2 separate regions of the Homo sapiens genome follow, and region 1 is linked to region 2. Evidence: fine-mapped expression QTL. A gene starts in region 2. The other region holds a variant in brackets. All regions are shown on one strand. Distances are from middle to middle.

Region 1 (15,855 bases), 24 kb before region 2:
TGCCCAGGCTGGACTCGAACTCCAGGGCTCTAGTGATCCTCCTGTCTCAGCCTCTCAGGTAACTGGGATTACAGGCAGGTGCCAGCACACCTGGCTTGAAGCTTTATTTTTTAATTTAATTTAATTTAATTTAATTTAATTTAATTTAATTTTTTGAGACGGAGTCTCACTCTGTCGCCTAGGCTGGAGTGCAGTGGCATTATTTTGGCTCACTGCAAGCTCCACCTCCTGGGTTCACGCCATTCTCCTGCCTCAGCCTCCCAAGTAGCTGGGACTACAGGTGCCGGCCACCATGCCCGGCTAATTTTTTGTATTTTTTAGTAGAGATGGGGTTTCACCGTGTTAGCCAGGATGGTCTTGATCTCCTGACCTTGTGATCTGCCTGCCCCGGCCTCCCAAAGTGCTGGGATTATAGGCGTGAGCCACCGCACCTGGCCTGAATTTTATTTTTTATTTTTATTATTATTTTTTATTTTTATTTTTATTTTTTGAGACGGAGTCTCGCTCTGTCGCCCAGGCTGGAGTGCAGTGGCGGGATCTCGGCTCACTGCAAGCTCCGCCTCCCGGGTTCACGCCATTCTCCTGCCTCAGCCTCCCAAGTAGCTGGGACTACAGGCGCCCGCCACTACGCCCGGCTAATTTTTTGTATTTTTAGTAGAGACGGGGTTTCACCGTTTTAGCCGGGATGGTCTCGATCTCCTGACCTTGTGATCCGCCCGCCTCGGCCTCCCAAAGTGCTGGGATTACAGGCGTGAGCCACCGCGCCCGGCCGAATTTTATTTTTTTTAGAGATAGTGTCTCGCTCTGTTGCTCAGGTTGGAGTACAGTGGCATGATCGTAGCTCACTGCAGCCTCAAAATCCTGGGCTTAAGTGATCTTCCCACCTCAGCCTCCTGTGTAGCTGGGATTACAGGTGCAAGCCACCATGCTGGGCTAATTTTTAAATTTTTTGTAGAGATGGGGTCTTGCTATATTGCCCAGGCTGGTCTCGAATTTCTGGCCTCAAGCCATCTTCCCATCTTGGCCTCCCAAAGTGCTGGGATTACAGGTGTGAGTACTTCACTGGTCTGCAGCTTTATTTTTAGTAGCCAAAAATAGGAGCCAATCCAATGACTCAATAAATGAATGGCTAGACAAACTGAAGTATATTCATATAATGGAATGACCTCAGTAAGTGAACATTTTTTCAGTAACAGCTTTATTGAGATATAATTCACATAGGTAAAAATTAGCCATTTTAAATATGTAATTTTGTAGTTTTTAGTATATGTACGGGTTGTGCAAACACCATCACAATCAATTTGAGAATATTTGTATTACCCCACAAAGAAATTCTGTACCCTTTAGCAGTCACCTTCATTGCCCCCAGCCACCCTCACTCTGACCTGGGCAACCACTAATCTACTTTCTGTCTCTATTTGCCAATTCTGGACATTTCACATAAAAATGGAATCAGGCTGGGCATGGTGGCTCACACCTATAATCCCAGCACTTTGGGAGGCCAAAGTGGGCGGATCACTTGAGGCCAGGAGTTCAAGCCCAGCCTGGCCAACATGGCGAAACCCCATCTCCACTAAAAATACAAAAATTAGCTGGGTGTGGTGGCGCATGCCTGTGATCCCAACTCCTTGGGAGGCTGAGGCAGAAAAATTGCTTGAACCCGGGAGGTGGAGGTTGCAGTGAGCTGAGATTGTGCCACTGCACTCCAACCTGGGTGACAGTGACACCCTGTCTGAAAAAATAAAAAATAAAAATAAAAATAAATAAAAATGGAATCATACAATATGTGGGGTTGGTATGTGTGTGTTTGGCTTCTTTCACTTAGCTGAATGTTTTCAAGGTTAATCTGTGTTGTGGCGCGTATCAGTGCTTCATTCCCTTTTATGGCTGAATAATATTTCACTGTATGGATAGACCACATTTTGTTTATCCATTCCTCAGTTGGTGGACATTGGAGTTCTTTTCACATGTTGACTATTATAAATAATGCTGCCATTGGCCAGCTGCCGTGCCTCACATCTGTAATCCCAGCACTCTGGGAGGCCAAGGCAGGCAGATCATTTGAGGTCAGAAGTTTGAGACCAGCCTGGCCAACATGGTAAAACCCTGTCTCTACTAAACAAAATACAAAAATTAGCTGGGTGTGGTGGTGGGCACCTGTAATCCTAGCTACTCTGGAGGCTGAGGCAGGAGAATCACTTGAACCCAGGAGGCAGAGGTTGCAGTGAGCCGAGATCGCGCCACTGCATTCCAGCCTGGGTGACAGAGCGAGACTCCGTCTCAAAAAATAATAATAATAGGCTGGGCGCAGTGGCTTACGCCTGTAATCCCAGCACTTTGGGAGGCCGAGGTGGGCGGATCACGAGGTCAGGAGATGGAGACCATCCTGGCCAACATGGTGAAACCCCATCTATACTAAAAATACAAAAAATTAGCCAGGCGTGGTGGCGCATGCCTATAATCCCAGCTACTTGGGAGGCTAAGGCAGGGGAATCACTTGAACCCAGGAGGCGGAGGCTGCAGTGAGCCAAGATCACGCCACTGAACTCCAGCCTGGCGACAGAGCAAGACTCCACCTCAAAAAAATGTATAATAATAAATAAGGAATAATGCTGCTATGAACATTCATATACTGGCTTTTGTGTAGACACATTTTCTCATTTCTCTTGGGTATATACACTTAGGAGTGAAATTTTGGGGTCAAAAGATACCTCTATGTTTAAATGTTTGAGAAACTGCCAGACTGTTTTCCAAAGTGGCTGCATCATTATACAAGTCCACTCACTAGCAGGGTATGAGAGTTCCAATTTCTCCCTACCCTCACTAACAGTTGCTTTTGTCTGTTTTTTAAATTTTTGTCATCCGAATGGGTGCGCAGTGATATCTCATTGTGGTTTGTTTTTAGTAACAGCTTTATTGAGAGATAATTCAAATAGCGTACGACTCACCCACTTAAAGTACATGCAGTAATGTGGATAGATCTTAAAATAATTAGACCAAGTGAAATAAACCAGACAAGAGTAAGGACTTTTGAATAAAAGCTATGTTAACTGGAAATAAAAGAATAAATATTGTACGATTGTATTCCTATAAAATTCTAGAAAATATAAACCAATCCATAATTACAGAAAGCAGATAAGGGACAATGGGGGGTTGAGGAGAGAGTTTGGGGGAAGTTTCCAGGAAGAAGGGATCACAGGAGGACACAAGGAAACTTTTGGGGGCTGATATTTATTTTTATTATCTTTTTTTTTTTTTTGACAGCCTCTCACTCTATCGCCCAGGCTGGAGTGCGGTGGCATGATCTCAGCTCACCGCAACCTCCACCTGCCGGGTTCAAGTGATTCCTGTGAACCACCGTGCCTGGCCTATTTTCATTATCTTGACTGTGGTCATGGTTTCACGGGTGTATATGTATGTCAAATCTTATCCAATTACACTATAAACATGTAGTTTACTGTATGTCAATTATATCTCAGTAAAGCTATTTTGAAAGAATACAAAGGACTCTACAATATTCTGTCACCTCCCCTTTGTCATGTCACTATACTTTTACCCTGAAAGCTCCCTCCAAACCATATCCCTTAAAATTTATTTATTTATTTATTTATTTATTTATTTTGAGACGGAGTTTCACTCTCGTTGCCCAGGCTGGAGTGCAATGGCGTGATCTCGGCTCACCGCAACCTCTGCTGCCCAGGTTCAAGCAATTCTCCTGCCTCAGCCTCCCGAGTAGCTGGGATTACAGGCACCTGCCACCGCACCCAGCTAATTTTTTTTGTAGTTTTTAGTACAGACGGGCTTTCACCATCTTGGCCAGGCTGGTCTTGAACTCCTGACCTCATGATCCACCCACCTAGGCTTCCCAAAGTGCTGGGGTTACAGGCGTGAGCCACCGCGCCCGGCATGACCTCTGTTTTATACCATTAACTATGAGATTAACAAAAACCTTTACCTTTGTGCAGAAGGTTAAAAAAAAAAAAAGCATAGTCAAGGAAAAGGAGATGTGTTACCTCTTCATACACTCCTACAACCATGGCATTGCAAAAAATAAAAATAACCACCTTTAAAAAAAAACCTAATTTAAATTGCTGTTCAATAATAATAATATATGTAAGATGATTAGATCAGTTCCTGGCATATGGTAAATATAGGTAAGTGTTTGCTATTTATTTTTGAAGCAAAAATGAGGATTTGTCAAAAATTGGGTGAGCAGCTACTTATGGAGGATAAAAGAACCTTTCAGGCTGTTTGGGAAAAGCTTCATTCTAAGTTTCTTCTTTGTAAGAGGACCTATTGCTGCCAGCACTTCTCTTGCTAACAATTCTGGTGGGTGATTTATCTTCGTTCTGCATTTCTTTCCGTAGCTCCTGTAGACATTGAAGGTAGGGTGAACCTGTTACTAAGGGGAGATACAAAAGTAGTGCAGGGGGTAAGATTAATCGCATGGGAATGAAATATGCTCTGAGCTTCTGAACATTTGTTACGTGAACCTGAGGAATGAAATGATATACTGAGCACTCCACAAGCTGTTTTTTCCGGTCAGTTGTCTGGTCAGAAATTTGTTAACTCACTCCTCCCTGATTCATCACACTGTCAGAAAGCTTGTATAACACGGAGTCTGAAGCATTCCAGAATCTTTCTTTTTTCTTTTTTTTAATAGAAATGAAGTCTTGCTATGTTGCCCAGGCTGGTCTCAAACTCCTGGGCTCAAGTGACCCTCCCACCTTGGCCTCCCAAAGTGCTAAGATTACAGGTGTGAGCCACCACATCCAGCCTAGAATCTTAAATTTACTATTGTACTTTGGGACCACAAGAACTTAAAAGTAAGAGGAATAAAATTATCATGAATATTAGTTAGAATTCAGTTTGATAATAACAGAAAAAACCTAAAACACCGGCTGGACGAGGTAGCTCATGCCTATAATCCCAGCACTTTGGGAGGCCAAGGTGGGTGGATCACGAGGTCATGAGACCATCCTGGCCAACATGATGAAACCCCGTCTCTATTAAAATACAAAAAAGGTTAGCTGGGTGTGGTGGTGCAGGCCTGTAGTCCCAGCTACTTGGGAGGCTGAGACAGGAGAATCGCTTGAACCCTGGAGGTGGAGGTTGCAGTGAGCTGAGATTGCGCCACTGCACTCCAGCCTGGGCAACAGAGTGAGACTCCGTCTCAAAAAAAAAAAAAAAAAAAAAGAAGAGGAAGGGGAATTATTACATCAGAGGGCAATTAGCAATCATTTTTTTTTTTTTTTTTTTAGATGGAGTCTCGCTGTGTCACCTAGCCTGGAGTGCAGTGGCTCGATCTTGGCTCACTGAAACCTCCACCTGCCAGGTTCAAGTGTTTCTTGTGCCTCAGCCTCCCGAGTAGCTGGGACTACAGGCGTGCACCACCATGCCAGGCTAATTTTTGTATTTTTAGTAGAGACAGGGTTTCACCATGTTGTTCAGGCTGGTCTCGAACTCCTGACCTCAAGTGATCGGTCTGTCTTGGCCTTCCAAAGTGCTAGGATTACAGGCGTGAGCCACCGTGCCCGTCCTAATCATAGAAAGTTAATAATAAGATCAATATATAATTAGCATGTGACAAAAAAGCCTGGCTCCTAGGATTTGATTGTTTAAATTAAAAGATTGAAAAAAATCTGTTTGTTAGAAGGGGCATTGTTTAGCATGGATTCTTGGAAGAGGACACTTCTGGGAGGTGGACATAGGCATTGCCCATCCATGTATTGGGCACAAAGGAAATCACAGCCTTTAAATGACAAAACAACTTATAATGGAGATGTGGAGGCAGGAGGTTGTAACCAATGGGATGTGAGTACTCTGCAGTAAGTAACCTGTTGGTGAGACCACCTCTATTATAGGATGACTGGCCTAGGCTATCTTAGCCTCACCTGTTACCACTGAACCCTGGGGCTTCGTCTAATTTCCATGTGTTTTCCATGGCCACTTGGCAGTCAACTTTCTCATTTTCATGGCGACCTACCGACCAGAGAGAATATGCTGCAGAGAGAGACTTGTAGGGGAGAAGTAGCTGACCCTGTAACAGTCCCAATTATCATGGTCAATGAGTGAATTGGCAGCCCGGCGTCTCCCTCAGCCTCCTATGTCCCTTTTCCAATGTGAGTCTGTTCTCAGAGTCTGGTCCTCGCTGTGTATTGCCAGGGGTGAACCTGTGGTCCTTCAGGGTGGAAGTTCTGATCCTGAAAAGTGTGATTGCCTGGCCAGGCGCAGTGGCTCACGCCTGTAATCCCAGCACTTTGGGAGGCCGAGGTGGGTGGATCACGAGGTCAGGAAATCTAGACCATCCTGGCCAACATGGTGGAACCCCATCTCTACTAAAAATATAAAAAATTAGCTGGGTATGGTGGTACGCACCTGTAGTACCAGCTACTCGGGAGGCTGAGGCAGGGGAATCGCTTGAACCTGGGAGGCGGAGATTGCAGTGAGCCAAGATCACGCCACTGCACTCCAGCCTGGCGACAGAGCAGACTCCATCTCAAAAAAAAAAAAAAAAAAAAAAAAGGTGATTGCCCTGAAGGAGACTTTTCCAGCTCCAAACCACTTCCCTTAGATGACATCAATCAGCTCTCTGCTGGTTCGAAGAATATGTTGAAAACAGTGTCAGAGTTAGCTATTTTCATTTTATTATAGTTCTTTGAGAACTGGGAAGAGACAGTGGGAGTGTCTTGGAATATATATTAGGTTTGGTATCAAGAAACTGGTCTAAATTCTGTTATTGCCAGTAACTACCTTTAAACCTCAGTTTCCTCATTCATTTGTAAAGTGGAGCAAACTCATAGCTGTCTTGCTCGCCTTAAAGCTTTTAATGCAAATGGTAAAACTCCTTTCTAAAGTAGATTATTATTCTGTGAACACCTGTGGTATTCAGAGTTTAATATAAAGAAATACGATCAATATCCATTATAATTACACCTTGTTTACAACTTTTTTTTTTTTTTTTTTTTTTTGAGACGGATTCTCGCTCTGTCGCCCAGGCTGGAGTGCAGTGGCGCGATCTCTGCTCACCGCAAGCTCCGCCTCCCGGGTTCACGCCATTCTCCTGCCTCAGCATCCCAAGTAGCTGGGACTACAGGCACCCGCCACCATGCCCGGCTAATTTTTTTGTATTTTTTAGTAGAGACGAGGTTTCACCGTGTTAGCCAGGATGGACCTTGTCTATAACTTTCAAGCAAAATGTCTTAGTTGGTAGAATACTCAGCACCTGTACCATGTCAGATAGTTTACAGTACCCAGAGGCACTAAAACATGGTTTTTGTCCTCTGTGAGCTTGTGGTTTTCCCCCTAATATGTTCTCTTTTTTTTCCACAATGAAAATAGCTTTTAAAAACATAAATATCATATATGCTGGTAGAGAAAAATAGAAAAGTATAAGAAGAAAGTAAAAATCTCCTTAAGGCCGGGCACAATGACTCACACCTGTAATCCCAGCACTTTGGGAGGCCGAGGCAGGAGAATTGCTTGAGACCAGGAGTTCCAGACCAGCCTGGGCAACATAATATTTGTCTTATAAATTAACATACTGAGACCCTGCTTCTACAAAAAATACAAAAATTGGCCTTGGCTACAGGTGGTGCTTGCCTGTAGTTCCAGCTACTTGGGATGCTGAGGTGGGTGTATCACCTGAGCTAGGGAGGTGGAGGCTGCAGTGATCTGTGATCGTGCCGCTCCACTCCAACCTGGGTGACAGAGTGAGACCCTGTTTCAAACAAAACAAAACTCCTTCAAATCCATTGCTCAGAGGTAATCACTGCACATTTTGTTTGTTTGTTTGAGACAGAGTTTTGCTCTTGTCATCCAGGCTGGAGTGCAAAGGCACCATCTCGGCTCGCTGCAACCTCTGCTTCCCAGGTTTAAGCAATTCTCCAGCCTCAGCCTCCCTAGTATCTGGGACTACAGGCTTGCACCACCACGCCTAGCTAATCTTTGTATTTTTAGTAGAGACAGGGTTTCATGATGTTGGCCGGACTGGTCTCAAACTCCTGACCTCAGGTGATCCGCCTGCCTCAGCCTCCCAAAGTACTGGGATTACAGGCATGAGCCACTGCGCCCGGCCGATCACTGCACATTTTGGTGCTCTCCCTAGCTGGCCTCATTTATAGAAGTGTACAAATGTAATTAGAGGGGGAAAATTGTAATCATCAGAATGTAAGAGGGGAAGGCTTGTGTTCCTCTTGTGTTTCAATATAATTTTTTTTTTTTTTGCAGGAGGGAAAGGTAACATGCATGCATGATAAATGATTCAAATAGTAAAAAGTGTATAATCCTGTAAAAGTATGTCTTTCTACTTTCCTTGATTTACAGCATCCTTCCCCAGAGGAAACTTGTGACCACCATCTTGTGTTTCTTTTTTGAGAATTCTTTGCTTAGCTCTGTATTCCTTTGGATGAAGTTTTAAAATTTTTGCCTTATAAATTAACACACAGAACAGGCGAGGTGACTCACACTTGTAATTCCAGCGCTTTGGGAGGCCAAGGATTTGGGAGGATTACTTGAGGCCAGGAGTTTGAGACCACCCTGGGCAACATAGCAAGATCCTATTTCTATTAAAAAATTAACAAAGAAGGCTGGGGGTGATGGCTCATGCCTGTCATCCCAGCACTTGAGAGGCTGAGGCAGGCAGATCGCTTGAGGTCAGGAGTTTGAGACCAGCCTGGCCAACATGGTGAAACCCTGTATCTACTAAAAATACAAAAATTAGCTGGGCATGGTGGTGCATGCCCATAGTCCCAGCTACTCAGGGAATTGAGGTGAGAGGATTGCTCGAGCCCAGGAGGTCAAGGCTGCCAGTGAGCTGTGATCACATGCCCCTGGACTCCAGCTTAGGTGACAAAGCAAGACCCTGTGTCCAAAAAGTAAAATAAAAAAATTAAAATTTAAAAAATTAACAAAGAAATTAACATACAGCAATATTGACCCTTTTTTAAAAGTACTACAAGTTTTAACACATGCAGATTCTTTTAACCACCTCCACAATCAGCATACAGAATGGCTTCATCACCCCTCTAAACTCTCTTAGGCTATCTTCTTTTGAGACAAGGTCTCATTCTGTCACCCAGGCTGGAGTGGCATAATCATGGTTCACTACAGCCTTGACCTCCCTGGGCTCAAGTGATCCTCCCGCTTCAGTCTTCCAAGTAGCTAGGACTACAGGTGCACACCACCACACACAGCTAATTTTTTAAGGTTTTTGCAGAGACAGGGTCTCATGTTGCCCAGGCTTGTCTCGAACTCCTGGGCTCAATCAATCCTCCCATCTTGGCCTCCAAAAGTGCTAGGATTATAGGCATGAGCCACCGTGCTTGGCTTTATGCTATCTTTCTGTAATTATATCCTCCCCTCAATTCCATATCCCTAGAAATCATTAATATGTCCTTCAACACTATAGTTTTGTCTTTTCGAGAATGTCATATAATAAAATCATACAATGTGTAACTTTTTTTTTTTTTTGAGACAGGATCTTGCTCTGTTGCCCAAGCTGGAGGTGCATTGGCACAAACATAGCTCACTGCAGCTTTGACTTCCTGATCTCAAGTGATCCTCTCACCTTAGCCTCTAGAGTGGTTGGGACTACAGGTATGTGCCACCAC[G/T]TATGGCTAATTTTTGCATATTTTGTAGGGATGGGATCCCACTATGTTGCCCAGGCTGGTTCAAACTCCTGGTCTCAAGTGATCCTCCTGCCTTGATCTCCCAAAGTGCTGGGATTACAGGTGTCAGCCACTGCACCTAGTCAATATGTAAGTCTTGAGACTGGCTTCTCACACTCAGTGTAATGCCTCTGAGGATCATCCCAGTTGTTACCAGTGTCATAATTTGTTTCTTTCCATTGTTGACTGGTATCTCATTGTATGAATGTACCAGTGCAAAAAGTTTCTTGGCCGGGTGCGGTGGCTCACACCTGCAATCCCAGCACTTTGAGAGGCCGAGGTGGGCAGATTATAAGGTCAGGAGTTTGAGACCAGCCTGACCCACATGGTGAAACCCCATCTCTACTAAAAATATAAAAATTAGCCGGGCGTGGTGGCGGGTGCCTGTAATCCCAGCTCATCGGGAGCCTGAGGCAGGAGAATCGCTTGAACCAGGGAGGCACAGCTTGCAGTGAGCAGAGATAGCGCCACTGCACTCCAACCTGGGCGACAGAGTGAGATTCCATCTCAAAAAAAAAATAAAAAGTTTCTTTATAGTTTCAGCCACTGAAGAACATCTGGATAATTTCTAGTTGGGGGCAATTATGAATAGCGCTGCTATAAACATTCACATGCAGAATTTTGTGTGCACCTATGTCTTCATTTCTGTAAATACGTAAGCGTGGGGTTGCTGGGTCATGTGGTAGGTATATGGTTAACTTTATAAGATGCCAAACTGTTTTCCAAGAGGCTGTACCATTTTCCATTCCTACCGGAAATGTATGAGTTGAAGTTGTTTCACATTCTCGTCAGCACTATTTATTCCTAATATCTTTTTTTTTTCTTTTGAGACAGAGTCTTGCCCTGTTGCCCTGGCTGGAGTGCAGTGGCTCAATCTTGGCTCACTGCAACCTCCACTTCCCAGGTTCAAGCGTTCGAGCGAGGAGTCTCGCTCTGTCGCCTAGGCTAGAGTACAGTGGCTCCATCTCGGCTCACTGCAAGCTCCGCCTTCCGGGGTCACGCCATTCTCCTGCCTCAGCCTCCTGAGTAGCTGGGACTACAGGCACCCGCCACCACACCCAGCTAAGCTTTTTGTATTTTTAGTAGAGTCGGGGTTTCACAGCGTTAGCCAGGATGGTCTCCATCTCCTGACCTTGTGATCTGCCTGCCTTGGCCTCCCAAAGTGCTGGGATTACAGGTGTGAGCCACCGCGCCCAGCCTCAAGCAATTCTTGTGCGTCAGCCACCTGAGTAGCTGGGATTACAGGTGTGCACCACCAGGCCCAGCTAATTTTTGTATTTTTAGTAGAGATGGAGTTTCACCATGTTGGCCAGGTTGGTCTTGAACTCGTGGCCTCAAGTGATCTGCCCACCTCAGCCTCCAAAAGTGCTGGGATTACAGACGTGAGTTGCCATTCCTGGCCTGTTATTTTTTATTTTTATTATTCTATTAAGTGTGTAGTGATATCTTAATTTGTATTTCCCTAATGGCTAATGATGTTGAACATCTTCTCATGTACTTATTTGTCTTCTATATATTTTCTTTGGTGAATTGTCTGTTCAAGTTTTTTGCCCATTTTTAAATTGGGTTGTTTGTCCATTTCTTATGACTGAATTTTGGGAGTTCTTTATATATTCCAGATGCAAATTCTTTGCCATGTATGTGATTTGCAATATTATGCCTCATCTGTAGTTTATTATTTAATTCTTTTAAAATTGTCTTTTACAGAGCAACAGTTCAAGTTTGATGAAAACTGGAAGAAAATATTTTAATAAACGTTTGGGTTAGAGGTAAAAATTAGTGGTCAGTAGAACACCCAAGAAAGGAAACAGCCTCCCTGCACTGTTTGGGGGTGGTAGCTGGCAGGCACCTAAAAACACACCAGTTTTTGAAAACTTCTCTAGCTTTCTCACTGTGTTACTTTCACACTGTGCTATGGTTTGAATGTTTGTGTGCCCCCAAAAGTGATACATTGAAACCTCATCTCCAATATGATGACATGAGCAAGTGGGAGTTTTAAGAGATGAGGTCATGAGGGCAGAGACTTAATCAATAAAATTAGTAACTTTATAAAAGAGGCCCCAGAGAACCTCACGGCCACTTCCACCATGTGAAGACACAGCAAGACGCTGCAATCTATGAACCAAGAAATGGGCCCTCACCAGACACTGCATCTGCCTGTGTCTTGATCTTGGACTTCCCAGCTTCTAGAACTGTAAGAAATCAATTTCTGTTGTGTATCAGCCACCCAGTCTATGGTATCGTAGCCCAAATGGACTAAGACACACTGCTTTCTCAAATATTCTTTCTCATAGTCTCAACAACCATTGTGTCAATGTATTGCCTTCAAACACTTTGAAACGTTGACATTTTCGGAGACTGTGCCAAAAAGGAGGAAATATCCCTTAAGCCAGGCTTCCATCCTGAATTCTACACACAAGATGAAGAGAAGAGATTCTTTTACTCCTTCCAGAAAGGGGTGAAAGAAGGAAAGAGGAAGCTAATAGGAACAGAAAAGCTGTGACCTGCCCATGTGACCATTCCCTGCCACCTCCAAATGGTCACCAAGCATTTCCAGAAATACCTCATGAATGCTCTGAGTTGCTCCATCTACATGATAGGGAGTTCTACGTGGGATTCCTTGCAAGCAGCTCTGATGGCAGGAGGGGAGACCATGGGAAAAGGAGCACTGGGGCTGGCAGAAATCTACAAGGATAGTTTTGGATTTCGACAGCCTGTGGCCTTAGCAGGGAATCTGTGTAAACTCTGCCGGGAATCCCAAGAAATGAGGCAGTGAAGGAGTGGGGGTGGGGTCTCTGCTAACTTCTGGTATGTGCATGCATGTATAAATATAAAAATATCTTTTTTTTTTTTTTTTGAGACAGAGTCTCACTCTGTCACCCAGGCTGCAGTGCAGTCGCATGATCTCAGCTCACTGCAACCTCTGCCTCCCGGGTTCAAGCGATTCTCCTGCCTCAGCCTCCCGAGTAGCTGGGACTCTAGGCACATGCCACCACGCCTGGCTAATTTTTGTATTTTTTAATAGAGATGGGGTTTCACCATATTGGCCAGGCTGGTCTCGAACTCCTGACCTCGCGATCCACCCACCTCAGATTCCCAAAGTGCTGGAATTACAGGTGTGAGCCACCACACCCTGCCAATATAAACATATCTTAAAATTTGCATGTAACTGGAACCACATTACATATGGTTAGAGAGGCCATTTTCCACTCAGCCGTATGTCAGCAAATATACAATATTTCATGAAACATAATATGCTATCACCTGTTAAATGCCCTATAAGTTTAGGTGCCATTAAGAAAGAAAAAAATGCTGCCAAATAAACTGCGATATGCCATGGAATGTAACAACTGTGAAAAAGCATAAAATAATCATTTTAGAATTGGTGGCATATGGTAGTATGCATCATTCTTTGTCATGACTGCATAGTATTTCACTCTGTGGATGTTTCAGAATTTAACTACCTGTCCATAGGTGTACATAGTGTTTCCATTTTTCACTTATGTGGGCAATACATTGTCAAATAATCTTGTACATCTATCATTGCTCACTTGTCAGATTACCTAGTTGGAATAAATTCCTAGGAATGTAGTTTTGAGGGTCAGAGGTTACAGATATTCAAAATTTTGGCATAGATTGCTAGAATTCCCCTCAGCACTCCAAGATGACACCCTTTCCCGCACAACCTTGATAACATAGACAAATCTTTTTCAATATGCAAACTGTTTCCAATATAATTGAAAAGTGCTGCCATTTTGCTCTTTACTTGCATTTTCATTGACTACTGGTGAGGCTTAACATCTTTTCATGTATCTATTAGTCTTTTGTGTTTCTTTAGGAGCCTGTTCATATCCCTCATAAGAACTGCTTTTTACTTAACTATTTATTTATTGACACAGGGTCTTGCTCTGTTATCCAGGCTGGAGTGCAGTGGCGCAATCACAGCTCACTGCAGCCTGGACCTCCCAGGCTCAAGCAATCCTAGAGCTGCCTTTTGAAAAGGAGACCACACATAGGCAGTTATAGTAGGCAAATTAGTGATTCTTCAAGAGGAAAGCAGCAGAGTCATAGAAAACAAAGAACACCAAATAGGACAAATGTGTTTTTTATTTATTTTTGAATTCAGAAACTGTGGTGAAATGAGCAGAATTGCCTGGAAGCTGCTCTGGAAGCTCATTCAAGGTTACCTGGGCCAGCCAGCTGGAACTGCAAGTAAGCCTATTCCTGGTGGAAGGAGCTCAGCCTCCACAGCATGGGCAGACTCCCTCCTCACACAGGGTGACTGCACCTTCCCACAGGCCCAAGGTCTCCAAATACTGGGAAGCAGGAATTCCTCCCATCTCCTCTGAACCCCTGGCACCCTACATCCAAGCTGCCCAGCACCCAAACCACTCATGTGTTCCCTACTCACAGACTGGTTTCTTACATTTATTCCCTAACTAATACAGCAGAACATGGACCTATCCTGCAGATCCAGCTGAGACCCTGACCTTCACATACTTCTCTATGGGACGGAGAATAGAATGGGAGACTCCTGCTTCCCCTTTGCTTGTTGACCCAGCCTTGTAAGATTTCACTTTCCCTAATAAAACCCAATCCGTAGCCCACGCAGAGTGACATATTAAAATTCATCCTAAATCCTGGAACACATGGGCAATGACCCATAAAGGCCAATGTGCCATGACAGAAACACTAAGAGTCATATCGTCCATCACTCTGTCTCAGTTCCTGTTTATTGTTGGCCAGAGAACTAGGATGATCCTCTGAGCAGACATGTCCTTGGAGGATAATTAAATGGGAACTATATAAATATTTCCATAAATTAAACCAAGGAAGTGTATTAAGTTCAGCTGAATCTGGATACCAACTGCTTCCTTTGACCACATCAGAAAGTCTCCTTTTAAAAGACATTAAAAAAGTTTTTAAATAACTTTTGCCAGGCACAGTGGCTCATGCCTGTAATCCCAGCTACTTGGCAAGCTGAGGTGGGAGGATGGCTTCAGCCCAGGTGTTCAAGGCTGCTGTGAGCTATGACTACACCACTGCACTCCAGCCTGGGTGACAGAGGCCATATGTCTTTAAAAAAAAAAAGACAGAGAAAATTACTTTTTATTGTGGCAAAATAAAAAAAGGTATAATATAAAATTCACTATCTTCACAATTTCTAAATGTACAGTTCAGTGTTAAGTATATTCGCATTGTCAGCAAACCAAAACTGGGTCCATTTGCCAGCATGCAACAGAAAGCCAAACACCAAAACACACAGTTTTTGCAGTGAGAAAGGTTTGTGAGTTGACAGACAAAGAGACAGGAAGAAATGTTCAAATCTGTCTCCTGGAGCTGGAGGCTGGGTTGGATTTTAATTAGCATAGGGTAATGAGGAGTGATCTGACTAGATCCTGCCATAGGGTCACCCCAGAGCTCAATCTGATTGGATCATGGGTCCTGCCATGGTGTCTGCTTTTATTTTTATTTTTATTTTTTATTTTAGAGATGGGATCTCACCATGTTGCCCAGGCTGGTCTCGAACTCCTGGGCTCAAGTAATCCTTCTGCCTCGGTCTCCCAGAGTGCTGGGGTTACTGGCGTACACCACCAGCGCCCAGCCTGGTGTTTGCTTCTTAATTCAGCCTGGTTCCTTGGTCCGAGCACTTAGTTCCCATTCATGGTTGCACACGATGTTCATCCGGGCATTGCCCCCTCCAACCTGCAGGGCCATGACCACTGAAAAACAACTCACAACTTTGCTACATAGAAGTTGAACCAGATTGGTGTAATGTGGTTACAACATCGCTGTGCAGCCAGTCCTCAGAACTCCCTCATCTTGCAAAACTGAAACTCTGTACAAATCAACTCTCCATTTTCCCCTCCCCTCGGCCCCTGGCAACTGCCATTCTACTTTGTTTTTGTGAATCTGACTATTCTAGTTACCTCCTATGAGTGGAACCAAATAATATTTGTCTTTTTCCGACTGGTTTATTTCACTAGTATAATGTCCTCGGTTCATCCGTATTGTTGCATGTGTCAACATTTCCTTCCTTTTTAAATGGACTGTGGTGATGGTTGCACATTTCTGTGAATATACTAGAAACCACTGAGTTGTAATACTTTAAGTGGGTGAATTGTATGGTGTGTGAATTATATCACAATTAAGTATGGTGTGTGAATTATATCACAATTAAGCTGTT
Region 2 (15,855 bases):
TGCCATATTTGCTTTACCTTTTTTTTGGTTTTTATATGTTAAACTCAATTATAGACATGATGAACAGCTTACCTGTTCTGTTTCCACCCCAACTAGGTGAGCTATAATTCAATTCAAAGGGCTGTTGGTTATTTAAAAAACAGCAACTTTTTTTTTTTTTTTTTGAGACAGGGTCTCGCTCTTGTTCAGGCTGGAGTGCAGTGGCACGATCTTGGCTCATTTCAACCTCTGCCTCCCAGGCTCAGGTGATCCTCCCACCTCAGCCTCCCCAGTAGTTGGGACCACAGGTGCTCACCACCACTTCTGGCTAATTTTTGTTTTTTGTTTTTGTTTTTTTTTTTTGTAGAGATGGGGTTTCGCCATGTTGCTCAGGCTGGTCTCAAACTCCTGAGCTCAAATGATCCACCTGCCTTGGCCTCCCAAAGTGCTGGGATTATAAGCATGTGCCTCCATGCCCAGCCCAATTCTGATGTTATTTACCCAGAGTTAGTATCAGACTCCATGGCGTTAAGGGCTCAGTCTTTTATAAGATGCTCTCATTTCAGACATCAGCCTCACTTTGGGATGTCCCTAAGCCCTTGCTCTTTTGACCAACTGGCTGCAAACTCAGGGGTTCCCACAGTCCCCACATGCTTGATAATTTGCTAGAACAACTCACAGAACTCAGGAAAGCATAATACTTATGATTAAAGTTTTATTATAAAACATGGCCTGGAGCAGTGGCTCACACCTGTAATCATAGCACTTTGGGAGGCAGAGGCAGGTGGATCACTTGAGGTCAGGAGTTTGAAACTAGCTTGGCTAACGTGGTGAAACCCCGTCTCTACTAAAAATATAAAAAAATTAGCTGAGCGTGTTGGTGTATACCTGTAATCCCAGCTACTTGGGAGGCTGAGGCAGGAGAATTGCTTGAACCCAGGAGGTGGAGATGCAGTGAGCTGAGATCGCACCACTGCACTCCAGCCTGGGTGATGGAGTGAGACTCCATCTCAAAAAAAAAAAAAAAATTGTTAGAGGCCTGGGAGGAAGACAGAGTTTCCATGCCCTCTCCTGGAATCACGGGGCATCACCATTTCAGCACACCAATGTGTTAAACTAGGATCAGCCACTGAACTTTGGTGTTCAGAGTTTTTGCTGGGGTTTCAAAGTGTAGGCATGATTGATTAAACAATTGACCACATGATTGAACTCATCTTAAGCTCCTCTCTCTCCTAGAGTTCCTACCAGAGTTCCAAGGGGCCCAGAGTCCCAACCTTCTAAACACATGGTTGGTCTTTCTGGTCACCAAACCTCATCCTGAAGATATCTAGGGGTCTGCACAGAGTCACTTCATTACTGTAACAAAGGCATTGCCATCACTTGGAAAATTTCAAGAGCATTTGAAGCACTGTGCCAGGAATGGGGGATGAAGACTTGATATATTCTTTATTATACTACATTGTGCCTAAGTATTTTAGTATATGCAAAACCATAGTACATTGAAGTTATTGTAAGTCAAAAGTGCAGACCGGGTACAGTGGCTCACACCTGTAATCCCAGCATGTTGGGAGGCCAAAGCGGGTGGATTGCTTGAGCTCAGGAGTTTGAGACCAGCCTGGGCGACATGGTGAAACCTCTCTACCAAAAGTAAAAAGAAATTAGCCGGGTGTGGTGGTGCAGGCCTGTGGTCCCCGCCACTTGAGGGGCTGAGGCAGGAGAATCACTTGAGCGTGGGAGGTCGAGGCTGAAGTGAGCTGAGATTGCGCTCCTTTACTCCAGCCTGTGTGACAGAGTGAGACCCTATCTCACACATAAAAAGTGCATTTTCAATTTATGATTTTTGTTTTTCTTTTCCTTTCTTTCTTTCTTTTTTTTAGAGACGGGGTCTCACTCTGTCACCCAGGCTGAAGTGCAGTGGTGTGATCTCGGCTCACTGTAGTCTCAACCTCCCTGGCTTAAGTGATTCTTCTGCCTCAGCCCCCACAAGTAGCTGTTTTGCACCACTATAAAGTCAAAAAATCATGTCGGGGACTGTCTGTACCTCTAAATAAGTAAGGACATTTTCCTATATAGCCCCAATATCATTACCATATGTAACAAAATTAATGAGAGTCATTTCTGCTTGATTTTCAGTGGCTGTCTAGTATCCAAAGCATGCATATATCCTAAAGTTCTTGATGGACATCAAGATGCCTATTGATGGACATTGAGGATATTTCTACTTTTTCATTAGGGGAAACCACACTAGGATGAACATTCTTATGCATACATCTTTTTATCCTGTAAGTGTCCCGTTACTACCAGAGAAAATTGTGACTGCTTGTTTTCCTAGCAGGGAGCTGTGAAATCCAATTCAAAGGCATGGTCTTTAAAAAAAAAAATCTTTCTTTTCTTTTGTTCACATCAGGCAGGTAATGTGCAGATGTGGTAACAAGGTTGGAGGGAGGTATATCTCACACATGCACGTGAAACTCCAGTCATCATGCTTATCAGCTACAAAAGAATCAAGGTATTGTCTTTCAGTGAAGCATAACATATCCCTGTCCCTAGTGCAGTCAGCATGGCTTTGCCTGAACTTTTACTATAATCTGTGTACCAAAGAAGTCTGATGTTATCGTATTCTTTCGGGCAAGGATGAGGGCCTTCTACTAACTCTCCAAGGCCAGTGGGCATAATGACAGATGTTATGGACTGAGTTGTGTCCCCCCAAAATTCATATGTTGACACCCTAGCCCCCAATGTGACTGTATCCAGACATAGTGTCTTTAGGAGGTAATTAAGGTCACATGAGGTATAAGGTAGAGCCCTAATCCAAGAGGACTGTGGCCTTACAAGAAGAGGAGCAAGAAAGTGGTGATCTGCAAGCCAGGAAGAGGGCCCTCTCCAGAACCTGATCAGGCTGGTACCCTGATCTCGAACTTCCAGCGTCCAAAACTGTAAGAAAATAAATTTCCCTTCTTCAAGCTGGTATTTTGTTATGGTAAGTCGAGCTAAGATTTTGATGAAGTTGGACTTCAGAATTCTTGGTGGAAGTGACAGAAACTTAATTTGAATTAGCTTGAGAAAAAAAGAATATTTCTTCAAAGAACTCTAGGAAAGAAAACAATGGGTATTAGAGTAAAACCACTGGCCTCTGACACACTGCCTTTGCAACTTCTCCCCAAAGTGCAGTGGCTCACTTTACCCTGAGGTTGGAGGATGATGTGGGGTGGGGTGGGTGTCAAGAGGCTACAAGAGAATTAAGGAGGCCTCTGTGGGGCCACAACCTACGCTTATTATTGTAACCTGAGGTTCACCACAAATCATGGGTGCCTTCTCATGGCAGATCAAAGCTTTTTTTTGGCGGGGGGTCGGGGGTACAGAATCTTGCTCTGTTGCCCAGGCTGGAGCTCAGTGGCACGATCTTGGCTCACTGCAACCTCCGCCTCCCGGGTTCAAGTGACTCTCCTGCCTCAGCCTCCTGAGTAGCTGGGATTATGGGCACATGCCACCACGCCTGGCTAATTTTTGCATTTTTAGTAGAGACGGGATTTCGCCATGTTGGCCAGGCTGGTCTCAAACTCCGGACCTCAGGTGATCCACTCACCTCAGCCTCCCAAAGTGTTGGGATTACAGGTGTGAGCCACCTCGCCTGGCCAGATCAAAGCTTTTATGGAAGGCTTCATGGCATTGCCTGTAGAGAACTGGAGTGCTTGAGGTACAGCCCTCAATCTTTGGATAATCTCACCCCAAGTCAGTAAAAGAAACACTCATTATCTCTTTCCTTCTTTCCTTCAGAGAATCCATATTTAGCTTGCTTGCAGAAGGAAGGAGTCAGGGCTCTTTTTGTTGGGGGTGGGTTTGGTCTCATGAAACTTTGCATTAGAGTCCAGTTTTCCTAGGGTTACCATTGTGCCTAATGACAAAAGTTATGGGGTTTTGATATTTTAAATATTTTATATATTTCTAATATTTTATTTCAAATGTATTTTCTAACAATATTCGACATCTCTGGTGCATTTATTTGGTGCTTAAAGATGCGCGTCTCAATCACTCCTTTGTCTTTAGCCACCAACTAGAAACTGACAACTCGCAAATCTGGATTTTCAACCCACCCCCTGGGCTTCAGTCCCACACATGCTACAGCCTGCTGGTCTTGGCTGTCTGTTAAGTGCCTCAATATTCAACATGGCTAAGATTAAACTTATCTTCATCCTCATATCCCTTTCTGTTTCCATAAAAGCCATTTCTTCCTTTAGGTTCCATATCTCAAAAGCCTGGGTTTTCTTCCCTCTTGTCACACCTTGCAGCTTAAGTAATCACCATATCAAGATTCTTCCTCTGAAGTTCCTAAATACCTCTCTATCTCCATGCCCACCGCCAACACTTTACTCCAGGCTACCATCACTCCTCACCACGATTATTACAATCTTTTCTTATTTCTGTTCTAGCCACCTTCCCTGCCCAAGCCATTTCATGTCAAACTAGACTTTTTTTTTTTTTAAGACTAAGGAACAAAGAAACATGTCACTTAAGACATTTGCTAAGCACCCACTATGTATCAGGTAATGGCATGAGGTCACAAAGATGGGTTAAACACTGTTTAGCTTCATTTCTTACTCCTACCCAATGTCAACTCTATCCTTCAGCTACTTTCAGTCTTCAGAAGGTAATTTTTTCCCTTGCCTCCAGGCTTTCATACTGTTGCCTCTGCCTACAATACTAAACCCTTTGCCTAATTGCTTCCTATTTATCTATCAGTCTGGTCTCAGTTTAGACATAATTTCTCCAGATGGTGTTACCAATCTCTCTACTCTGGGTTAGGTATCACCTCTATTTTTTTTTCTTTTTTCTCCAACTGTTAGCTAAATATCCATGTGGTGTTTTAATAATTCCTAACCATAGAACTTTTAAAAATAAGTTTTATTGAAATATAGTTCACATTGCCATAAAACTCATCCTTTTAAAACATATAAAAAACATATGCCAGTGGTTTTTAATATATTCATGAGGTTTTTCTGAACATCGTCAATAATTCCAGAGCATTTATTTCCATCAATACAAAAAAAAACAAAACCCAAAACAAAAAACCAACCCTGGAAATGACCAATCTACTGTCTATATTTAGAATTTTGCCTACTCTGAACATTTTATGTAAATAGAATCGCGTAATTAATGTGCCTTTTGTGTCTGGCCACTTTCACTTAGCATAATTTTTCAAGTTTATCTATATTGTAGCATCTATCTGTACTTCATTCCTTTTAAGGGTCAAATAACCTTTCATTGTATGGATATAGCACACTTTGTTTATCCATGCATCAAATGACGGATATTGGGGCTGTTTCTGCCGTCTATTATGAATAATGCTGCTATGAATATGCACGTGCAAGTGCTTGTATGCACACACGTTATCATTTCTCTTGAGTATATACCTAAGTGTAGAACTGCTGGTTCATATGATAATTCTATGTTTAACATTTTTTTGAAGAGCTGCCAAACTTTTTCAACATGGCCGCACCATGATACAATCCCATGAATAGTGCATGAGAGTTCTGATTTGTCCACATTCTCACCAGCATTTATCATTTTTTAAATTTTAGTTTTTCTAGTGGGTGTGAAGTTGTATCTCATTGCAGTTTTGATTTGTATTTCCCTGAGGGCTAATGATGAGCATCTTTTCATGTGCATTTGTATATCTTCTTGGAAGAAATGTCTATTCAAATTCACTGCCCATTTAAAAAACTGAATTATCTGAGGCCAGACATGGTGGCTTACGCCTGTAATTCCAGCACTTTGAAAGGCTGAGGCGGGTGGATCACTTGAGGTCAGGAGTTCGAGACCAACCTGGCCAACGTGGTGAAGCCCTGTTTCTACTAAAAATACAAAAATCAGCCAGGCATGGTTGTGGGCACCTGTAATCCCAACTACGTGGGAGGATGAGGTACAAGAATCGCTTGAACCCAGGAGGTGGAGGTTTCAGTGAGCTGAGATTGTGCCATTGTACTCTAGCCTGGGCAACAGAGCAAGACTCCAACTCAAAACAAAAAAACAAAACACACACACACACACACACACACACAAAACAAACCCAAAAACTGAGTTGTCTTTTCATTGTTGAATTGTAAGAGTTCTTTATATACTCTGGATACTAATCAGTTATCAGATATGTTATTTGCACATTCCCTTCCATGTTGTGGACTGTTACTTCACTTTCTTGATAGTGTCCTTTGATACACACAAAAAAATTTGTTTTGAGATATGGTCTCACTGTTTCCCAGGCTGGAGTGCAGTGGCACAATCTCTGCTCACTGCAACCCCCACCTCCTGGGCTAAAGCAATACTCCCACCTCAGCCTCCTGAGTAGCTGGGATTAGAAGCACCCACCACCATGCCCTGCTAATTTTTTTGCATTTTTTTTTGTAGAGATGGAGTCTCATTTCATTACCCAGGATGGTCTTGAACTCCTGGCCTCAAAGGTAATCCTCTTGCCTCGGCCTCCCAAAATGCCGGGATTACACAGTTGTGAGCCACCAAGCCCAGCACTAAATTTTTTTTTAATGAATGAATGGATTAGGTAACCAAAATATCAAGTTTCTTTTTTCTGTCTAAAATTGTATCAACTCTGTGCAGTAACATTGTTTTCATCATGTTGTTGGCAGTTAAAAATTCCTTGACTAACAATTCAGAAGCAAACGAATGCACAAGATGATAGGGATTGTGTGATTTAACAGGTTTTGGAGCAACACTGATCTGGATTCAAATCCTAACTTTAAGAACTGTATCCTTGGGCAAATTACATTACTATTTTTCTTTCTTTAAAATGCGTTTTTTTGTTTGTTTTTTAAGTGCCAGGGGTTTATTTCCCTCACATGTGGGATGGCTCACATACACAACACACAAAGGCGTTGGCACCGTGGGAGAGGGCAGCACCCCTGGCTTCTGCTTGGCCTCACAGTGTAAGAAGGGAGAGGATGGGTTCTCTCTCCTCCCCTCACTAGGGCCTAGGGGACCCAGGAGCAAATTCCATCCCTTTCACCTCTCAGCCAAGGAGAAGCCACATTGGTGACATTTAGTTCCAACAATTACAGTAAGTGGAGAAGGGATTGGTCTGGTCCCGACCATTACACGGTGAAGGTATACATAGTAAAGGAAGATACAGTTTGGATGAGGCCACAATAGGGTGCAGATGACACCATCAGAAGCATGTGCAGGGGAGGGGCAGTCACTCAGCTTCTGGGCTGCTTAGTTCCTGGGTTGGCAGGAAGGGTAGGGAAGACGGATGGGGCTCATTGTTTGGCATTGATGATGTCTACGAATTCGGGCTTGAGGGAAACACCACTCATGAGGAAGGCAGCCACGTCAGGCTGGCTGGCCAGCTCCTTGCAGGTTGCCTTGGTCACAGAGCCTCCATAAATGATACCAGTGCTCTGAGCCACTGCATCAGAGATGTTGGACTTAAGCCATCCTCGGAGCTTCTTGTGTACCTCCTGGGCCTGTTGGGGTGTTGCAGTCTTGCCAGTACCAGTGGCCCACACGGGATCATAGGCCAAGATGACCTTGCTCCAGTCCTTCACATTATCTGCGATGACCTTTGTCTGCTCAAAAACAACCTTCTCAGTGATGCCAGCTTCCCTTTCATCTAGCTTCTCCCCAATGCAGGCGATTACTCCGAGTCTCTCTGCCAGAGCATGGGCCACTTTTCTGCCCAATCAGCTCATCTGACTCCCCAAAGACACGCCTTCTGAGTGCCCCAGGACCACACCACCCACGTGACTCCTAAGTCTTTGACCATGCCAGGGCTGATCTCCCCAGTAAAGGCCCCATTAGTCACTTTGTAGCAGTTCTGCGGAGCCACAGCAATCTTGGGAGCTAGCTTCTGCCGGGCCAACTCGTTATACGCAGTGGCGAGAGCACAAATCACCTTGGTGTCGGCAGGCACAGTGGCCGCGTTCTGAGTGCCGATGAGCTCCCCCAGACATTTCTTCCGCCCGTTCATCTTCCAGTTCCTCCCCACGAAGAACTTCCTGGAGGGCGCCATGGCGCTGGAGCTGAGGCGCTGTAGGTCAGTGTCAGCGCCTAAAACGGGTTTTATTAATACTTGGCAAGGTTGTTAGGCGGATTAAATGAGATCTTGTAACTACAGTGTTTTACACATTGTGATCATTTATCAAATAGCAGTTATTTACTAGTGCAAAGGACTAGCAGCAATGTTAATATCAATATACTGTTACCTTTTGTCCCTAATTTCTCCATAGTACAGTTTCCAATATTTCTGTTTTCTTTTGTGAATTGTTAGACCACTGGTATTGGATTCGGACAGAAAGGCATTCACAAAAATACAGTTCAATGTGAGAATAACCCTAAAGATGTATGCAAAATGCTCTGGAGTTAGAGCACCAGGAGCTGTAAGCAGAATGAAGACCTCTTTTGGGCTTAAGAACTAAGTAAAGGGGAGCTGAACAAAGATTCTAGGCATTTTGGATTTATCTCAATGTGGCACATATTTCAGGTTTGTAAAATAGTTCAGTTGACTACGTGTCTGTCTCCTCCACTAGAGCCAGCGTAGGTACCATGTCTTAAGTCATCTTTGGATCTCCAGTACTGTGGCCACTCTAGGGAGAGTTGAATTGACGCGCCTTGATCACCAGGGCAGAAAAGGATTCTCTGGAGAGGGATGGGGCAGTCGGAAGGGGTAGGAAAAACCTGGATCCGTTTCCAAGGAGCTGAAGGCAGCTCAGATATGGGGCACATCTCGGCGCTAATGTCCCAAGCTGCTAGCGAGGAACAGAGAGAACACCGGCTCTTCTTCCCGGCTCCTGGCCCGGCAGGGTTACTTCCGGGAGGGGGCGGGGAGACAAGAGGAGGCGTGCCGGGAAGGAGGCCGTTTGTAGTGTACCAGGCGGAAGTGTGCCAAAGGTATCGGTGCTGTCGCTTCCGGTCCGGGTAAACGAACCTTAGGTACACTGGTGTGTGGCCTCCCAAGATAGGCTTCTGAGGGCAAGTCAGCGACTGAAGACGGGAGCGCCAGAATCTGTGGACTCAAGAGTCTAGAATCAAGTGGAAAAACCGGAAAAAAGGCCAGGAACCTGAATACGACCTAATAGCTGTTTCCGAGGGGGCAACTTCCACGGAGAGCCTTCTGCCCTGGTAACGGCCAAAGAGGAGGAGATGGCGCCAGTCAGGGAGCGGCCGTGGCCCAGACAGTGAGGAAGCGCGAAGGCGGAGCAACCGAGGAATCCTCCGGAGAAGAATCAGAGCCGTCGCTACCGCCACTACCGCCACCACCATGGAAGGAGCAAAGCCGACATTGCAGCTCGTGTACCAGGCAGTGCAGGCGCTTTACCACGACCCAGATCCCAGCGGAAAGGAGCGCGCCTCTTTTTGGCTTGGGGAGCTGCAGCGTTCGGTGAGGGGCCCAGAGAGGCAGTTCTGTGCCGCACGGCCGGGGCGGGGTGGAACCTAGGCTCCGGGGGAGAACCTGAGCCCGGCAGTTGACCTCGTGAGGTCCTCCTTGGGGAGGAGCTGCTGTCGTGGGGTGGGGCTGCGAAGCTACATCTTTGCCGCTTTTGGGAAACTAGTCGCACCTGATCGGTCGCGAACTGGCCCTTTCCCCACCCGGCAGAATCTGATTTGTAGGTCTTATACTCTTCGATTGTGGCATCAATCTAATCTTGTTTAAGTTCTCCCTTTGCCGTTGCTTCTTGGGCCGTGCTTTTCCGTTTTGTCTTCCTCCCACCAAATCCAACCCCAGTGTTTCTCCACCTTCCGCTTAAGAAGGCTTTATTCGTCTCCCCTCCGTGTCCAAGACTTGCATCTGGCATTTTGCTCCCAGTCGTAGCCTTATGCCTCACTCTTTTTGCCTATTTTCACTCCAGTTTGAGTCTGTTCTTCTCGAAACTTCTCAGGTTTCTAGATTCTTACTCATGCGAGTTTTCCCCTTGCTTTGGAGTGGCAACATAATATGAAGAAAAAACAGTAATTCTGCTTTCAGAAAATCTTTGGAGTTCTCATTTTGTTTCATATTAATCCTCTAACCTTGTTATTTCTCTGGCTTTTAGATTTTTATTTATAAGATGGGTATCACTGCTGCTTTGATTATTCCATATAAAACTGTGTGTGCATCCGGTGAGATATTTAATTGTAGCTTATATCTGTTGTATTTCTGCATTCTTTGATTCATGTTTTATGCTTCCTGCCCTAATTTTCACACCTTTGCTGTGCTTCATTTCTGTGTAAATGTGTATTCTTGGTTATCTGGCTGACTTAGGTTCTAATGTAGGATGTACTTTAAAAATTAAGTACTTTGAAAACTAAAGAGGCTTTTTTTACAGGCTGACAAAATACTCACCTTTACCTTTATTTTTGCATTTTATACTCACAACCATATTTTTTTTGGCCCCCTTCCCTTTATTTTAACTCATAACTGATACTTAAAGGTGCTCTGCCTTATTAAATCAGCTCCTAGGCTGCAAGTGCATAATATTTAAAAATTTGCAACTTTGACTTTTTAAAAATCTGGTCTTGGTATGGAGCAACTTTGCCTTTTTTTTTTTTTTTTTTTTGAGACAGAGTCTCGCTTTGTCGCCCAGGCTGGAGTGCAGTGGTCCCATCTCAGCTCACTGCAACCTCCTCCTCCCGGGTTCAAGAGATTCTCCTGCCTCAGCCTCCCGAGTAGCTGGGATTACAGGTGCCTGCCCTGACACCCGACTAATTTTTTTTTTTTTTTCTTGAGACAGAGTCTGGCTCTGTTGCCCAGGCTGGAGGAGTGCAGTGGTGCTATCTCGGCACACTGCAACCTCCTCCTCCCAGGTTCAAGTGATTCTCCTGTCTCAGCCTCCTGAGTAGCTGGGATTACAGGCACACGCCACCACACCCAGCTAATTTTTGTATTTTTTAGTAGAAACGGGGTTTCGCCATGTTGGCCAGGCTGGTCTCTAACTCCGACCTCAGGTGATCCGCCCGCCTCGGCCTCCCAAAGTGCTGGGATTATAGATGTGAGCCATCGCCCCCCGCTGCAACTTTGACTTTGAATATTAAACCTAAAAAACTGGCACCCAAGTCCTCTTCAGAAAATAAAGGAATACGACTCACTGTAGGCTACACAAGAAAATCATTCACATATGGTCTCATTTAGTGTTTCTGTGATCTCTGGAGAGTCAACAATTCCCTGATCTTTGTATAGTTTTCTAAAGTGTAATTAGGAGAAGTGCTACACTATACTAAAAAAGTAATCTCTTTCTAATTAAACCTGCTTGTTGTGTGTATTTTAAATCAATATTTGAGTGCTTACCATGTGCCAGCAACTATGCTGGGTGTTTGGATTTGGAAATGAACCAGACAAAAATCTCTGCTTACCACAGAAGGTAGTTGTGATTAAATGAGTTAATATTCTACGAAGAGGTTAGAAAAGTTCTTGGAACATAGAGATTAAAATGTTAGCAATTGTTATTTAAGTATTAGTCACTTTTCTCTCCTTACTTTCCAATACTCTATTACAACCTTACATCATCTTCACCATCACAGTTAATAGTCAGAGTCCAGACAGGAACAGATGGCACACTTGACAGGATAATCTGAGTTTATTTTATAAAGATACTATTATAAAGATTTAGGTATAGTGGTGTGACAAGAAATAGTTTGGTAACCTATAGCTGAACGGTTAACATCCCATAAAAGAGGGAATAGTTACTTGAAAAGTATGGAGTTGGCTGCCTTGAGAGGAATGGTGACTTTCAGCCGAAGGGACATAGCTAGTTTCAGGTGACCTTGAGAGAATGAAGCTGGAGGAATGAATATCCTGACCCTGTTCTCTTAATTTCTTGCTGGGATTCCCCATTGGCCAAACCCAACCGGAAGCCAGGGGCACAGTGACCTGTTGGTAAAGTCTATACAGGTCAGCCTATTGGAGCAGAAAACATGATAGAGGAGGGTGGAAAAGTGGATCTGGAAAATATCCAGCAGTAACACATCACGTTTAGGCAACTTCAGCATCTGGATTGACAGTTCAGCTAACACTTTGGCCTTCTGATTCCTTTACCTCTTCATTCTCTTTAGCCACCTGGTCACACAATCACACCCTGGATCTTGTCTTTACTAAAAAGCCACCACCCAGGCTGGGCGTGCAGTGGCTCACGCCTGTAATCCCAACACTTTGGGAGGCTGAGGCGGGCGGATCGCTTGAGGTCAGGGGTTTGAGACCAGCCTGGCCAACATGGTGAAAACCCGTTTCTACTAAAAATACAAAAATTAGCTGGGCGTGGTGGTGCGCACCTGTAGTCTCTGCTACTCAGGAGGCTGAGGCAGGAGAATCTCTTGAACCCAGGAGGTGGAGGTTGCAGTGAGCTGATATTGTGTCACTGCACTCCAGCCTGGGCGACAGAGCGCGACTCCATTTCAAAAAAAACAAAAAAGTTGCCAGCCAGGCCAGGCCCATTGGCTCTTGCCTGTAATCCCAGCACTTTGGGAGTCCAAGGTGGAGGATCCCTTGAGCCCAGGAGTTCAAGACCAGCCTGGGCAACATAGCGAGACCTCATTTCTACAAAAAAATAGGAAAATTAGTTGGGTGTGGTGACATTTGCCTATAGTCCCAGCTACTCAGGAGGATCCCTTGAGCCCAGGAGTTCAAGACTGAGTGAGCTATGATTTCGCTACTGCACTCTAGCCTGGGAAACAGCAAGATTGTACAAAAAAAAAAAAAAAGTCACCACACCTCCAAATCACTGATTCAGACATTCTGCTGTGATCATAACCCACTGTTTTCCAGTTTGCTGGCTCAAAAATATCAAATAATGTCACCTAGTTTTTTTTGAAATCTTTATGTAGTTTTACTAATATTTAAGTTTTATTTTTAAAACAAAATTTTGTGGAACCTTTTTTTTCCTGTTGGTAATCAAATACCTCTTTTTTTTTTTAACATTTTGTTTTCTGGGTATCCACAATAAGTCACCCTCAAATCTCAGTACTGTAAATATCCTCATTGTTCAGACTGGTGATTTGTTTTCTTTTTTGGCTAAAGGAAATATGTATCCCAAGAGCCCTCCATTTCCCTGCTCCAGTCTGGCCTGGTTCGCTAGGTCTGTTGGATAATTACTGTCATGGGATTCCATAAACACTGTCCTAGGGAATTCCCTTTGCCTCTTTGTTGTGCTGGATCCACTGATTCTTGGATTCCATGATGTTTTCTTGGGTTACTCTTCCATTTAATGGATCATCGAGAAGGGAACCTTCATCCTTTCTCTCATTGCTTTTCTGTTGGTCTGTTTTTCTTGGGCTGCTTTTACCTTGAGTTCTCTAGTCAGCCTGGGGGTTATAAGCTAGACTGCCAGTGTTCTAAAGCCAGTTCAGGGAATGAAGCCAGGGGATGGATCTCACAACTAAGTATGTAGGTTTTAATTTAATCTCTTGTTTTTCAGCATGATACTCCTGTCTTTAGCTGAGTCTGTTGTCTAAGAGTCCAGAGACCACCTACTTCAATCTTTCCACAGTAAACCTTGAGTCTTCTGTTATGGTGGGAGAGTAGTAGCCTGGTTGCTCAGAGTCAGAGAGGAAATTTAGGAGTCTACTGCTTCTTACACAGATTTTGACCCTTTTATTTATTTAAACTTTTTTCTTTTTTTGTTTTAAGGCTGCATTACTAGCCGATTCCCCCCCCACCCTTTTTTTTTTTTTTTTTTTTGAGACAGAGTCTCGCTGTCTCCCAGGCTGGAGTGCAGTGGCGCCATCTCAGCTCACTGCAAGCTCCGCCTCCCGGGTTCACGCCATTCTCCTGCCTCAGCCTCCAGAGTAGCTGGGACTACAGGTGCTTGCCACCATGCCCAGCTAATTTTTTGTATTTTTTAGTAGAGACAAGGTTTCACCATGTTAGCCAGGATGGTCTCGGTCTCCTGACCTTGTGATCTGCCCACCTTGGCCTCCCAAAGTGCTGGGATTACAGGCATGAGTGACTGCGCCCAGCCCACCCCACCTCACCCTTTTTAAAAAAAGAAAAAAAAGAAAAGAAAAGTTGGGGTCTCGCTATATTGCCCAGGTTGGACCCGAACTCTTGGTCTCAGGCAATCCTCTCTCCTCAGTCTCCTGAGTAGCTGAAATTACAGGTGCACACCACCACATCCAGCTCCACTCCTTTATTTTTTGTTCCGCCTGTGCATCTGCCTTCAGATGTACCTGTGCTTCCAATTCCCCAGTCTTCCTGGGTTTTGCAACATGAATAGTTTGTCCCTTGCCTTCCCTATTCTCGTCTCATCCTCCCTCCCCACCCCCAGGCAAATATCAGCCTTTTCGGATCTGCTAAGACAGTTAACACTGTCCTTTAGCTTTCCAGTTTCCACAGTTCTATTGATATCTGTCACCTGTTTCCATTTTCTTTGTCTTTATGTGTTTTTGCCTTTTTTAAAAAAGATCTTTACTCTGATTTTTATTGGATTTTTGGAAGGACCTGAAAGCAGACAGCTGTGTTCAATCAGTTAGTTTAGTCATTTTAAACAGAAGTCCCTGCATTAGTTCTTGAATTTTATCAAAACCTCAGTTCATTGACTGTTCCTTACTTCTTCTTTATTAGGTCTTCTTGTTTTTACTTCTCTCCTTACCAAATGTGGATTCCAAGATCTATCATTCTAGTCATTTTATAAATACACCATCACCTTTCCCCTCCAATTTGGTCAGACTTCAGCATGGTTGTATGCAGCTGCTTCTCCTCTTGTCAGATCTAGGTGCTTTGCATCTCTCAATCTTCTGAAATTTCTGGGACCTTGATCTTTTGGTTTATCCTATGTCTTGTCTGCATCTTTAGACTCCTTTACTGAGTCTTTCCCATCAGCATCCAAATAGCTGAAATATTTCTCATAGTACACAAATATTTTGGGGTAGAGTGGATGCCGCCTTTGCCCAACTTTACTTTCTTCTCTGCTTTTACCCTTTCCCAACCCTTTCTTCAAATGCAGAAACTAACTCATCTTTTGAAAGCCCAACCTAAATTCTGCTTTCTCCTTCAAGGCTTACCTGCTTCTCTTCAGCCAAAAGTGATTTCAGCCCCCAATGAATGCCTAGAGAACTTTACTTCATTGTGTTTGCCTTTTTATAAACCTTTTTGAAAATAAGTGTTTTGCCTCCCCTACTAGACTGGGATTCTTGTCACATTTGTTTATGTAGTCCAATACCCATAGTTGAAGAAATAAACCATGGTTATTAAGATAAACAATCAAGACACTTCACACACAGGTTCTTAAAAATGTTGATTGTCAGAAGTGCATACATGCAGATACTCAGTTGGATAACTCACATTTTTCTTTATCTGCGAGTTTTATTTATTTTTGCTGTCACTTTTCACCATATACATGGTTAAAAATAAACAATATTCAGCACCTTTAATGCTCTTCAGTCTTTCCAGTCTTTTTTTTTCTTTCTTTTTTTTTTTTAAATCCTTTATGAGATGTATATGTTGCCCTCATTTCATACTTGCAAATATTCAGGTACAGAAAGGGAGAGGAACTTTTTGACTCAATAAGGCTCTCTTTGTTTATTTATTTTTTGAGACAGAGTCTCACTCTGTTGCCCAGGCCGGAGTGCAGTGGCACCATCTTGGCTCACTGCAACCTCCGCCTCCTGGGTTCAAGCAATTCTCTTGCCTCAGCCTCCCAAGTAGCTGGGACTACAGGCACATGCCACCATGCCCGGCTAATTTTTGTATTTTTAGTAGAGATTGGGGTTTTGCCATGTTGGCCAGGTTTGTCTCAAACTCCTGGCCTTAAGTGATCTGGCCGCCTTGGCCTCCCAAAGTGCTGGGATTAGAGGTGTGAGCCACTGCACCTGGTCTATTTATTTAGTTTTTTGAGACAGGGTCTCACTCTGTTACCCAGGCTGTGGAGCGCAGAGGTGTGATTACTGCTCACTGCAGCCTTG

What was found.
Region 1: its variant is fine-mapped to the expression of TNPO3 in whole blood (INTERVAL, PIP 0.98).

Annotation. Positions count from the first base shown.
Region 1 is chr7:129,072,418-129,088,272 of GRCh38, reverse strand. No RefSeq gene overlaps it. Among named protein-coding and RNA genes, the nearest start is that of TNPO3, 25 kb to the right of the region's middle. RefSeq lists an enhancer at 15,428-15,537. The variant G/T (reference allele first, on the strand shown) is at 9,612.
Region 2 is chr7:129,048,160-129,064,014 of GRCh38, reverse strand. TNPO3 (transportin 3) reads left to right here and starts at 8,904. Exons shown (of 23, transcript NM_012470.4): 1 at 8,904-9,364. The coding sequence starts at 9,245. It overlaps LOC124901836 (small nucleolar RNA U13), which reads right to left and starts at 2,484; the gene lies at 2,381-2,484. It also overlaps the pseudogene TPI1P2. RefSeq lists enhancers at 2,654-2,823, 7,766-8,060, 8,872-9,371 and a silencer at 7,766-8,060.